Linked DNA regions of Homo sapiens. The protein of the gene in region 1 interacts with the protein of each later gene in a pairwise test. Each region holds a gene or a part of one and is shown in the gene's direction. Other genes may lie near its edges.

Region 1 (3,544 bases):
GAGCCAATGTCACACCACTGCACTCCAGCCTGGGTGACAGAGCAAGATTCCATCTCAAACGAAAGTAATTACTTTCAATGGCAAAAACTGCAATAAGTTTTTGCACCAACCTAATATAATGCACTGTATTCAAGCAGGACAGACTGTCACCCGACCAGGAAGTAGGTGGCTTCTTATATTCATGAACCAAACCTCTCCAGCCCTCTGTGGTCACACTTGGTGTCTGGAATTCCATCACCAGGGGATTCATTCTTTGCTGTCTTCTCTGAGAGGTGGATAAAACCGGGAGTCATACTTTTTTTTTTTTTTTTTTTTTTGAGACAGAGTCTTGCTCTGTTGCACAGGCTGGAGTGCAGTGGCACGATCTCGGCTCACTGCAACCTCCACCTCCCAGGTTCAAGCGATTCTTCTGCTTCAGCCTCCTGAGTAGCTGGGATTACAGGTGTGCGCCACCGTGCCCGGCTAATTTTTGTATCTTTAGTAGAGATGGAGTTTCCCCATGTTGGCCAGGCTGGTCTCAAACTCCTGACCTCAGGTGATCCACCCGCCTCGGCCTCCCAAACTGCTGGGATTACAGGCATGAGCCACTGCGCCAGGCCGGGAGTCATACTTTTATGTAGATTAGTCCTTTTGGATTTTTCCTCTGTGGGAGAAAGCAGCTTGCAGCAAGCAGATACGCTAAGGGGAGGATGATGGGGCAGGATTGAGGCCCCAGACAAACCGCAGGCCCCGGGTAACACAGCTAGTCGGGCACACATCCTGCAGCACAGGCCCGCGGCGCTGGGGAGATCTACATACGGCATGGAGCCAGGCCGGGACGCAGGCCCGAGTTAGCACGGCTGGCATTGCTGCCACTCCCTTCAGGGCAGGGAGGACAGTCATCTAGCGGCCTTCGGATTACACAAACCCTTTCCTTGGCGGGGGTCTCCCAGGGTGGTCAGGTCCGGACCAGGCAGAGGCCTTGCACCTGTGCTTCCCAGCCCCCCAGTTTTGCGCGGGAACTGCAGGTGCCAAACCCGGAGGCAGCAAAAGTGCTGCCCAAACGGGGATGGAGCCACCCGGGGCGGGAGAGGCCGGGGGCATCTAAGGCCGTGTAGCTCCCATGTTTAGAGGCTCCCAGTTATTTACAAATGAATAAAGGCCAGAGGACACGCGTTTGGGTCAACTTAAAGGTGCGCGTGCAGTGTTCTGTGACCTCCGTGGGATGCGAGGCTGGCGGGCCGGAGCGCCCCTGCCGGGGATTGGCCGGCCGCGCTCCGCCGCAGACTCCGCGCCGCCGGGCGCTCACTTCGCCACCTGACGGCAACGGCGGGAACCGCAGGAGCGCGCGGACCACCCCCCACCCACTTCCCCCGAGCCCCGCCGGCCCCAGCTCCCGCTCCCCAGGAAGCGAAGGGTTAAGCTGTCAGCGGCGCGATGTTAAACAGGTGTCAAAGGCGCCCCATATATCTGCAGATTGAAATCAAATTCTTCGCCGTATAAAAAGATAAATTACCCAGGCGCTGCCGAGCGTCCCACTCATCACGCCAGCGCCAGACGGCAAGCAATTTTTTTTTAATGTGCTAACGACCTAATCAAGCAATCAAGTCGGAGGAGATTGCAGCGTGACCCGGGCAGCCATCTGCCGCCGAGCCCGCATGCATTTCCGCGCCGCGCGGGGCGGGGGCCGCGAGGGGCTGCCGGGGGGAAGGGGGAAAATCCTAAACAAATTAACACCCAATTTTCCCCGTCTAATTAGTTAAATGAGAAGAGTTGGGGGTCCCCGGGGAAGCGGGGGCGCTCGCGACGAGGCGAGTGCTGCCTCCCCAGCATTAATTAGTGCGGGTCAATGCCGCGGCTCCCGGGAGAGCAGCCGCTTTAATTTCCCGTGGTATTTCAGTGCCTGAGGCCCATCGATTCAAACTGAAATTAACTTATTTTTCAATCAGCCCAGGGCTGCCCCTGGGGGTGACTCTTCTTTTGCCGCCTCCTGAATAGAGCTGGAGCAATTTTTCATTAAAAGCTGATACCTCTGCCGCGGGGGAGGGGGCCCGGAGGGAAGGGCGGCGCCGGCCCAGACCCAGGCAAGGAAATCGGGAGGAAATGAACAGATTTCCCAAGCCCGCCTCGGTCCTCCCCTCCCGACTCCCTCGACTTCCCTGGGGCGACTCGCTGCCCCCGGGGTCTGAGCCTTTAAGGACTGTGAGGGGCGAGAAGGGAACCGCCAGGCTTGGGGCGCACCATTACCCCGCGGGCCTGGACCTCCTTGGCGGACAATGCGAGGGGCTCCCGGCTCTGTCAGCTGCGGGAAATCTCCGGAAAGCTGCTCTGGGGGACCAAGAAATGTTCCCTCCTCAAACTTGGCAGGGATTCTGGGATCCTAGAATGGGCTAGAGTGCTGCAGACACCCCAGGGTACCCCACTGTCATTCAGACCCTGCACCAATCAGCTTTGGGGCCAGAGACACATTCGCTAGTGCTTCCTCCGCCCCCACTCCCTCCCAGGTCCCTCCTCCCATTTGCTCCTCAACCCTGGAGAATGTTATCTTCATCCCTGGTCCAGCTCCCCAAATACTATTCAGAGTTAGGCTCGGAGCTGTGGGGAGCAGGTACCTGGAGGGCACATGTGGTTTGGCAGAGCTTAGCTGGGACAGGGTGGAGGAGGCAGGCTGACCCAGGCCTCCGAGGGGAGTCTCCCTCCCTGAGTTCCCAGCCTTCCTGATACCTGGGTGAAGTGCCCCTAAGACTGTCCCCTGCCCTTTGTCCCTGATCCCTCACTCACCTGCAGCCCTCCTGGATGGTTGTGACTCTGGGCTTCTGGCAGAGAGGAAGCCCTGAGCCAGAGACACTGCTAGTCCAGTGCTGGGAAAGGAATTTGTCCCTCTGCAAATCAGAAAAAAAGATTTATATGCTGGAGGTGTGAACACATGCAAGAGAGCCATCAGTGGCAGGGCAGGCTTCTCAGCTGCAAACAGTCGATGACACTGGGTCCTGCGCACCTGCAAGACCCTGTCCAGGAAGCATCCATACCCCATCTCCCTAGAACTACCCATGATATTCTCATAAGACTGATGTCCTCCTTCTGAATACTCCCTGAGCCTGGAGGAACACAGAGGGCACCATGGAGTAGGCGAGCTTAGGTTAAGGACGCCCTGCTGGAGAAATCTTCACTCCAAGCCTACAAGGGGTAAGGGCCTTGGGCCCAGCACCTCTCAGAGCAAGCCTCTGACCTGTTCTGTGCACCTGCAGGTCTGGTTCCAGAACCGTCGAGCCAAGTGGAGGAAGCGGGAGAAGTGCTGGGGCCGGAGCAGTGTCATGGCGGAGTATGGGCTCTACGGGGCCATGGTGCGGCACTCCATCCCCCTGCCCGAGTCCATCCTCAAGTCAGCCAAGGATGGCATCATGGACTCCTGTGCCCCGTGGCTACTGGGTAAGAGCCCGCACCCTCCTTGGGGTCCTGCCCTGCGGTGAGGAGAGCGGGCTCCTTGGAGGAGGGGACAGAGCCTTGAGGCAGGGGCACTTGGGCCACAGCAGCCTAGCAGGAGAGAAATTCTTCAAAGCAAACC
Region 2 (3,649 bases), on another chromosome or scaffold:
GGTTTTTACCCCTCACCTCCACAACTCGGTTGTCTGTCTTTGTTCTTCCTCTTTCCTCCATTCTTTCCATTCCTGTGCATGCCTCTTCTTTTCAGATGAATGTAAAAGAGTTTAAGGAGCACATTGCTGCCTCTGTCAGCATCCCATCTGAAAAACAACGGCTCATTTACCAGGGACGAGTTCTGCAAGATGATAAGAAGCTTCAGGAATACAGTAAGGGGGCTGGGGAGGCAGTTCAGAGGTTGGGGCTACTGTCTGGAGGGATGAACTGAGGCCATGGGTTTACCTGTTCATACTATGTTTTGGTGTGTGTCTATTTTTCTGCAGATGTTGGGGGAAAGGTTATCCACCTGGTGGAACGGGCTCCTCCTCAGACTCACCTCCCTTCTGGGGCATCTTCTGGGACGGGGTCTGCCTCAGCCACTCATGGTGGGGGATCCCCCCCTGGTACTCGGGGGCCTGGGGCCTCTGTTCATGACCGGAATGCCAACAGCTATGTCATGGTTGGAACCTTCAATCTTCCTGTAAGCTTATGTTCCACAGGGGAGGGCTTTTGTGGGTAGCTTTGGTTGTGGTAGCACCAGGGAATTAATAAGATAGATGCTTCCATCTTTAGATTGGGTTCAGGGGGCCCTGTGGTGTGCTATTGGTCTCAGTCTTTAAGGAGAAAAGGAGGTAGGGCTCCAGGGAATGAATTGGAGGTGTGGAGGCCTTAGTGTTGGCTTCTCCCAGAACAACTTCCCTTACCCTTTCCCCAGAGTGACGGCTCTGCTGTGGATGTTCACATCAACATGGAACAGGCCCCGATTCAGGTATTGAGGGGCCTCCGAGGGTCAGGGAAGGGGATCTGGGAGAAGGAGGCTGGGAGGTGGGGTGGACCTGGCTGAGAGATGGCTGGGACCTGATTTAGTAGGTGGTAGAACTCATGGCTTCATCTGTAACCTACCCTGATAAACCTTCTCTCATTGTAGAGTGAGCCCCGGGTACGGCTGGTGATGGCTCAGCACATGATCAGGGATATACAGACCTTACTATCCCGGATGGAGGTAAGTGGGCAAGGCTGGCTAGGGTCTCTCTCCACCCTCCCTCTCCCTTTTCTCTCAGCCTGGGAGTTAGGGCTTCACTGGCCACATCCACAGGGTTTGGCCTTCATAATCTAGTCTTCTCTGCAGTATTCATTCTTTTGGGCAGAAAAAGTATCTTTGTGAGGCTCTCTCATTTCTGCCAATCCTCTTGGTGCCTGGTATCTGGGGAGTTTGTTTCAGACTTAGTCTCATGGCATCTCTTTTCAATTAAAGGATTCTACTCTCTTAACTTGTGGAGGCTGGGAAACCAACTTGTGGAGGAAAGGAAACCACAATCTCTACTCTTTGTTAGAAATTTATTTACAAATATTACAGATGCTGTGGCCGGGTGTGGTGGCTCCTGCCTGTAATCCCAGCACTTTGGGTCGCCATGGCAGGGGGATAACGTGTGGTCAGGAGTTCCAATCCAGCCTGGCCAACATGGTGAAACCCTGTCTCTACTACAAGTACAAAAATTAGTTGGGTGTGGTGGCACGCGCCTGTAGGCCTGGCTACTTAGAAGGCTGAGGCAAGAGAATTTCTTGAACCTGGGAGGCGGAGGTTACAGTGAGCTGAGATCATGCCACTGCACTCCAGCCTGGGCAACAGAGCGAGACTCTGTCTCAAAAAAAAAAAAAAAAATTACAGATGCTTATTATGCATCTAATTTGTGTCAGTCTTATGCTAGTTGCTAGCGAGTCGGAGATAAAATTGCAGAGCCATGCCTTCAGGGAGTCTAGTTAGGATACTTTCTCTGTTCAGTCTCCTGTAGAGTAATCCTCTGCAGCAGTCTTACCCTGCCTTTGGTATCCTGACTCTCCCCTACCTTCAGTGTCGAGGAGGGCCCCAACCGCAGCACAGTCAGCCGCCCCCGCAGCCACCGGCTGTGACCCCGGAGCCAGTAGCCTTGAGCTCTCAAACATCAGAACCAGTTGAAAGTGAAGCACCTCCCCGGGAGCCCATGGAGGCAGAAGAAGTGGAGGAGCGTGCCCCAGCCCAGAACCCGGAGCTCACTCCTGGCCCAGCCCCAGCGGGCCCAACACCTGCCCCGGAAACAAATGCACCCAAGTGAGAGATGGAGGGAATCTTTAGTGGGTGGGGAATCCTAAGTGAAGTATGGGGAGAAGGAAATGAACCATGGCAAGGGAGGGAAAGGATTACTTGGAGGTCTTAGTTGAAGGGTTAGCATTGAGGGGCGAGGAGGGGCTCTCTCGGTATAGGTAAATGACGCTAGGACAGGCAGCTGAGAAGAACTGCTGCTCTCCCTACGGCAAGGAAATCCAAATGGTATCTCCTGAGCCTGATCGGAATTCTCCTCTGAGTTCACGAAGGCCTGCTCTCTTTCTTAGAATTAGTCTTTCACCATTGTAGGTGCAGGATTGTGGTGGGGAGGGTGGGAGCAGTTCATTTTCTTCTCCCTATCCTCTCATGGGTGGGAGTAAAGAATAGAAGCTTTGGCTGGGTGCAGTGGCTCATGCCTGTAATCTCAGCACTTTGGGAGGCAGAGGCGGGCAGATCACCTGAGGTCAGGAGTTCGAGACCAGCCTGGCCAACATGGTGAAACCCTGTCTCTACTAAAAAATACAGGCCGGGCACAGTGGCTCACGCCTGTAATCCCAGCACTTTGGGAGGCCGAGGCGGGTGGATCATGAGGTCAAGAGATCGAGACTATCCTGGCTAACATGATGAAACCCCGTCTCTACTAAAAATACAAAAAATTAGCTGGGCATGGTGGCGGGCACCTGTAGTCCCAGCTACTCGGGAGGCTGAGTCAGGAGAATGGTGTGAACCCAGGAGACGGAGCTTGCAGTGAGCTGAGGTCGCACCACTGCACTCCAGCCTGGGTGATAGAGCGAGACTCTGTCTCAAAAAAAAAAAAAAAAAAAAAAAAACAAAAATTAGCCGGGTGTGGTGGCAGGCAACTTAATCCCAGCTACTTGGGAGGCAGAGGCAGGAGAATCGTTTGAACCTGGGAGGCGGAGGTTGAAGAGAATAGAAGCTCTGCTGGTCCAGAGAAGGATTGGGCCAGGGCTCTGGGAGACCAGGGAGAAAGAGGGCACATGTGGTCCCTGTTGACTGTGAGGGTGGGAATCTGAGGAAGGCTTTGGCTCATTGCCCCTTGGGTTTGTCCACAGCCATCCTTCCCCTGCGGAGTATGTCGAGGTGCTCCAGGAGCTACAGCGGCTGGAGAGTCGCCTCCAGCCCTTCTTGCAGCGCTACTACGAGGTTCTGGGTGCTGCTGCCACCACGGACTACAATAACAATGTGAGCCCTTTGATGGCCCTGCCCTTTCTCCTCAGCCCCAGTACTCCCAAAACAGAACAGGCTGAAATGCAGATAACTCTTTCCCTCCCTGGAAAAACATTGCAACAGGGCCAGGTGCAGTGGCTCACGCCTGTAATCCCAGCACTTTGGGAGGCCAAGGTGGGCGGATCATCTGAGATTGGGAGTTTGAGACCAGCCTGGCCAACATGGTGCAACCCCATCTCTACTGAAAATATAAACATTAGCTGGATGTAGTGGTGCACACCTGTAATCCCAGCTACTCAGGAGGCTGAGGCAGGAGAATCGCTAGAACTCGGGAG
Region 3 (3,649 bases), on another chromosome or scaffold:
ATTGACTGTCATCTACTCTGATATAACGAAGGAAAACATACAAATATTAATTTAAATTTTTGGATTATATAATGTAGTGTTTTTCCTTAGTGGAGATTGTGGTTTAAGCCAGCTTTATCAATTTGGAACATTAACATACGTGAGATAATCAGCACCCTTACTGTAACATAATTTCTATTTTTTTTCTTTTTTTAGATACACAGTCTTGCTCTGTTGTCTAGGCTGGAGTGCAGTGGCATGATCATGGCTCACTGTAGCCTTGCAGCCTCTCGGGCCCAAGTGATCCTCCCACCTCAGCCTCCTGAGTAGATGGGACCACACGTGTGCACCACCACGCCTGGCTAATTTTTTTTTTTTTTTTTTTACTTTTTTACTTTTTGTAGAGAAGAGGTCTCCTCCTGGTCTTAAATTCCTGAGGTCAAGTGATCCTCCTGCTTTGGCCTCTCAGAGTGCTGGGATTATAGGCCTGAGTTACCATGCCTGGTCTATAATTTACGTTCCTAAGAGATGTTTTACATTTTTGTATTATTAAAACAAAGTGGGAAAAGGGCAATAGGTAAAGGACTTGAAGGTTTCAAAACAATAGAAAGTTTTTGTTTTTAGTACAGCTGGAAAAATAATGTTTCACTGGAGCTGACCATTTAAAAAGTTTGCTTCTTTATTTACCCCTTATTTTCTACCCTTAGAGCCTCTTGGTCATTCTTACTACTTTTTGCGTTGATCTTCCAGCTTTGAGTGCAGCACATTTCACAGCCACATCTAGAAAATGGAAGAACTACAGGAATAAATATGAGCAGATTAGTCAGTGAGCTGCTTGAGACAGCTCAGTATAGCATTTTGTTTGGAGTTGCTTTTTTTGGTCTTGCTTAATTTTGTTATAAGCAATAGTTATTTGCATTTTATAAATTTTATTCCTTAATCAAATTATGTATGGCTTGTAATATGAAAACCAGTGCTATGGGAAAAATGCGTGATTAGTGGCAGATACTATGATATGTATTGTTCTAATTAGAAGTGTTGTCACTCCCTGAGGGTGATTTTAAGTCTTTCCCTTATGACAGGTAAACCTAAAGAATGTCATCTTCATTGATGATTAAATTTTATTTCTCTTTTTGTCCCCAGGAATAGCAACAACTATAACTACAGGATTAACTCTGGGTAAGAATTTTTGAGGAAAGATCCCAGCTCTGTGGTCTTCTAATAATTTTAATAAATTGAGTGATCTTTCTACTCTTCTCTCTTCTAATATTTCACAGAGCTGGAGTATAGAAAAAAGTGTGTATCACAGATGGTGACTTATCGGAGAACCTTTCAGTATTTGAGTAGTGAAAAAAAGGAATGACTTCGTAGAGTACTTTTATAATTCAGAAAAGTATTTTAAATGCAGAAATTGTTTTTAATGTGGAAGTTTATTTCATATTACTTTTTTAGTCATTTGACTCCAGTTAGTGGAAAAAACACCAAACTTTAAGCCAGAAATTTTGGAATTAAGCCTCTAAAATACTTGTGAGGCCTTAGGTAATGTTTGGGGCTTTTAGTTATCTATAAAATTGAGGGTATTGAACTAATATCCAAAGACATAATACTTTCTGTAGTGTTAACGCTAAAGGGAATGTGAATAACTAGGGTTTCAGCCAGCTTTCAATCTGGATGGCAGTAAACAATGTGAAAGGAAAGGAAAAGGAAATGAAAGAACATTCAGAAGCTCTTAAATTGAATTTTAAGTTAAAGGAAAGGAAAAGGAAATGAAAGAACATTCAGAAGCTCTTAAATTGAGTTTTAAGTTAAGGATTGGCAGACTTTCTTCATTTGGATGCTACACCTGTTATTAACAGAAAACAACACATCTGTTTATCAGCAAAGTTTTGGACTGGATCAGCTGCAAACACAAGCAAGTGAATCTTCTTGTTTTCTTTTTTGCTTTTTTTTCCCCTATCAGACAGGTTCTTCCTCTGTTGCCCAGGCTGGAGTGCAGTGGCACCATCACAGCTCACTGCAACCTCAAACTCTTGGGCTCAAGCGATCTTCTCTGGGGTTCCCAAGTAGCTAGGACTACAGGCACATACCACAACCCTTGGCTAATTTTTTTTTTTTTTTTTTTTTTTTTTTTTTAGAGACGGAATTTTGCTCTTGTTGCCCAGGCTGGAGTGCAATGGTGCAATCTTGGCTCACCGCAACTTCCGCCTCCTGGGTTCAAGTGATTCTCTTGCCTCAGCTTCCTGAGTAGCTGGGATTACAGGCATGTGCCACCACGCCTGGCTAATTTTGTATTTTTAGTAGAGATGGGGTTTCTCCATGTTGGTCAGGCTGGTCTCGAACTCCCAACCTCAGGTGATCCACCCGCCTTGGCCTTCCGAAGTGCTGGGATTACAGGCGTGAGCCACTGTGCCTGGCCTTTTTTTTTTTTTTTTTTTTTTTGGTAGAGACAAGGTCTCAGTATGTTGCCTAGGCTGGTCATGGACTCCTAGCCTCAAGCCACGTGCCCTCTTTGGCCTCCCAAAGTGCTGGGATTACAGGCTTGAGCCACACCAAGCCTGAGTCTTGTTTTCTGAGGTTGTAACCCCATACGTGATTTCAAAGCACTGCACTCTGGCAGGAACTTCTAGTTGTGATCAGGGCAATCCAGAAGCATAGTTTCTGGCTTCTTTTCTCTCAGTGATTTCAGGTTAAGTCATGCAGGTCATTCATACATTTCTTTATTTAATATTGTTTGAGCAGTTACTACTTCCTAACCATGCAGCCTTGTGTCTACATAATGCCTTGAACATTGAATATTGTGGCACTGCTGGTGAGGATGGTCCTTGATGATGACATTGGGAACTGCTAAGGGTTGGAGCAAGACAGTCAGTCTGTTGTGAGGTGAAAGGGATAGGCAGGTATATTAACATGTTCTTGTATAATCCGATAAATGTCCTAAAAGATGTAGAGGCACCATGAAAGGCAGAGGAAGAAAACAGTATGGTTTACTTTATGGGCAGGAAGCACTTCAGAGAGAGGAGTGGCAAGTGCAAAGGCCCAGTCATAAAAGCGTTCTGGGAAATATGAAGTATTTTGGTTTTGGAGCTTAGAAATCAGAGGTGGAAATGGTGGGCAGAGTTGAGAATTGAGGAGCAGGTTGGGACCAGATAGGAAAGGGAGGTATATGTCGTGCCTTTAGACTCTATTTTAAAGACAATCTAGAGCTAATAGGAACCTTAAATTGGGCAGAATCACCAGGATATTTGTGGGGGTTTTTTGTTTGTGTTTTCTTTTTGTTTTTGTTTTTTATGAGACGGAGTTTTGGTCTTGTTGCACAGGCTGGAGTGCAATGGCGTGATCTCAGCTCACCACAACCTCTGCCTCCCAGGTTCAAACAATTCTCCTGTCTCAGCCTCCCGAGTAGCTGGGATTACAGGCATGCGCCACCACGCCCAGCTAATTTTGTATTTTTAGTAGAAACGGGGTTTCACCATGTTGGCCAGGCTGGTCTCGAACTCCTGACCTAAGGTGATCTGCCCACTTTGGCTTCCCAAAGTGCTGGGATTACAGACGTGAGCCACGGCACCTGTCTTTTTTTTTTTTTTTTTTTTTAAGGTAACCAAGATAATTTTAAGAATAGATTAGAGGTTAGAAGAGACTGATACCAGAGAAATAAATGCTGTTGTAGTAG

Evidence for each region.
Region 2: the proteins of VSX2 (region 1) and BAG6 interact in binary tests that used the Homo sapiens proteins (3 or more experiments, as listed by UniProt).
Region 3: the proteins of VSX2 (region 1) and NUP58 interact in binary tests that used the Homo sapiens proteins (3 or more experiments, as listed by UniProt).

Annotation. Positions count from the first base shown.
Region 1 is NC_000014.9:74,256,375-74,259,918, forward strand, and holds part of VSX2 (visual system homeobox 2), read left to right. Parts: intron 1-3,227; coding exon 3,228-3,408; intron 3,409-3,544.
Region 2 is NC_000006.12:31,646,074-31,649,722, reverse strand, and holds part of BAG6 (large proline-rich protein BAG6), read left to right. Parts: intron 1-95; coding exon 96-213; intron 214-327; coding exon 328-524; intron 525-758; coding exon 759-812; intron 813-971; coding exon 972-1,046; intron 1,047-1,896; coding exon 1,897-2,132; intron 2,133-3,199; coding exon 3,200-3,329; intron 3,330-3,649. UniProt on the Homo sapiens protein: ATP-independent molecular chaperone preventing the aggregation of misfolded and hydrophobic patches-containing proteins.
Region 3 is NC_000013.11:25,308,125-25,311,773, forward strand, and holds part of NUP58 (nucleoporin p58/p45), read left to right. Parts: intron 1-1,122; coding exon 1,123-1,158; intron 1,159-3,649. UniProt on the Homo sapiens protein: Component of the nuclear pore complex, a complex required for the trafficking across the nuclear membrane.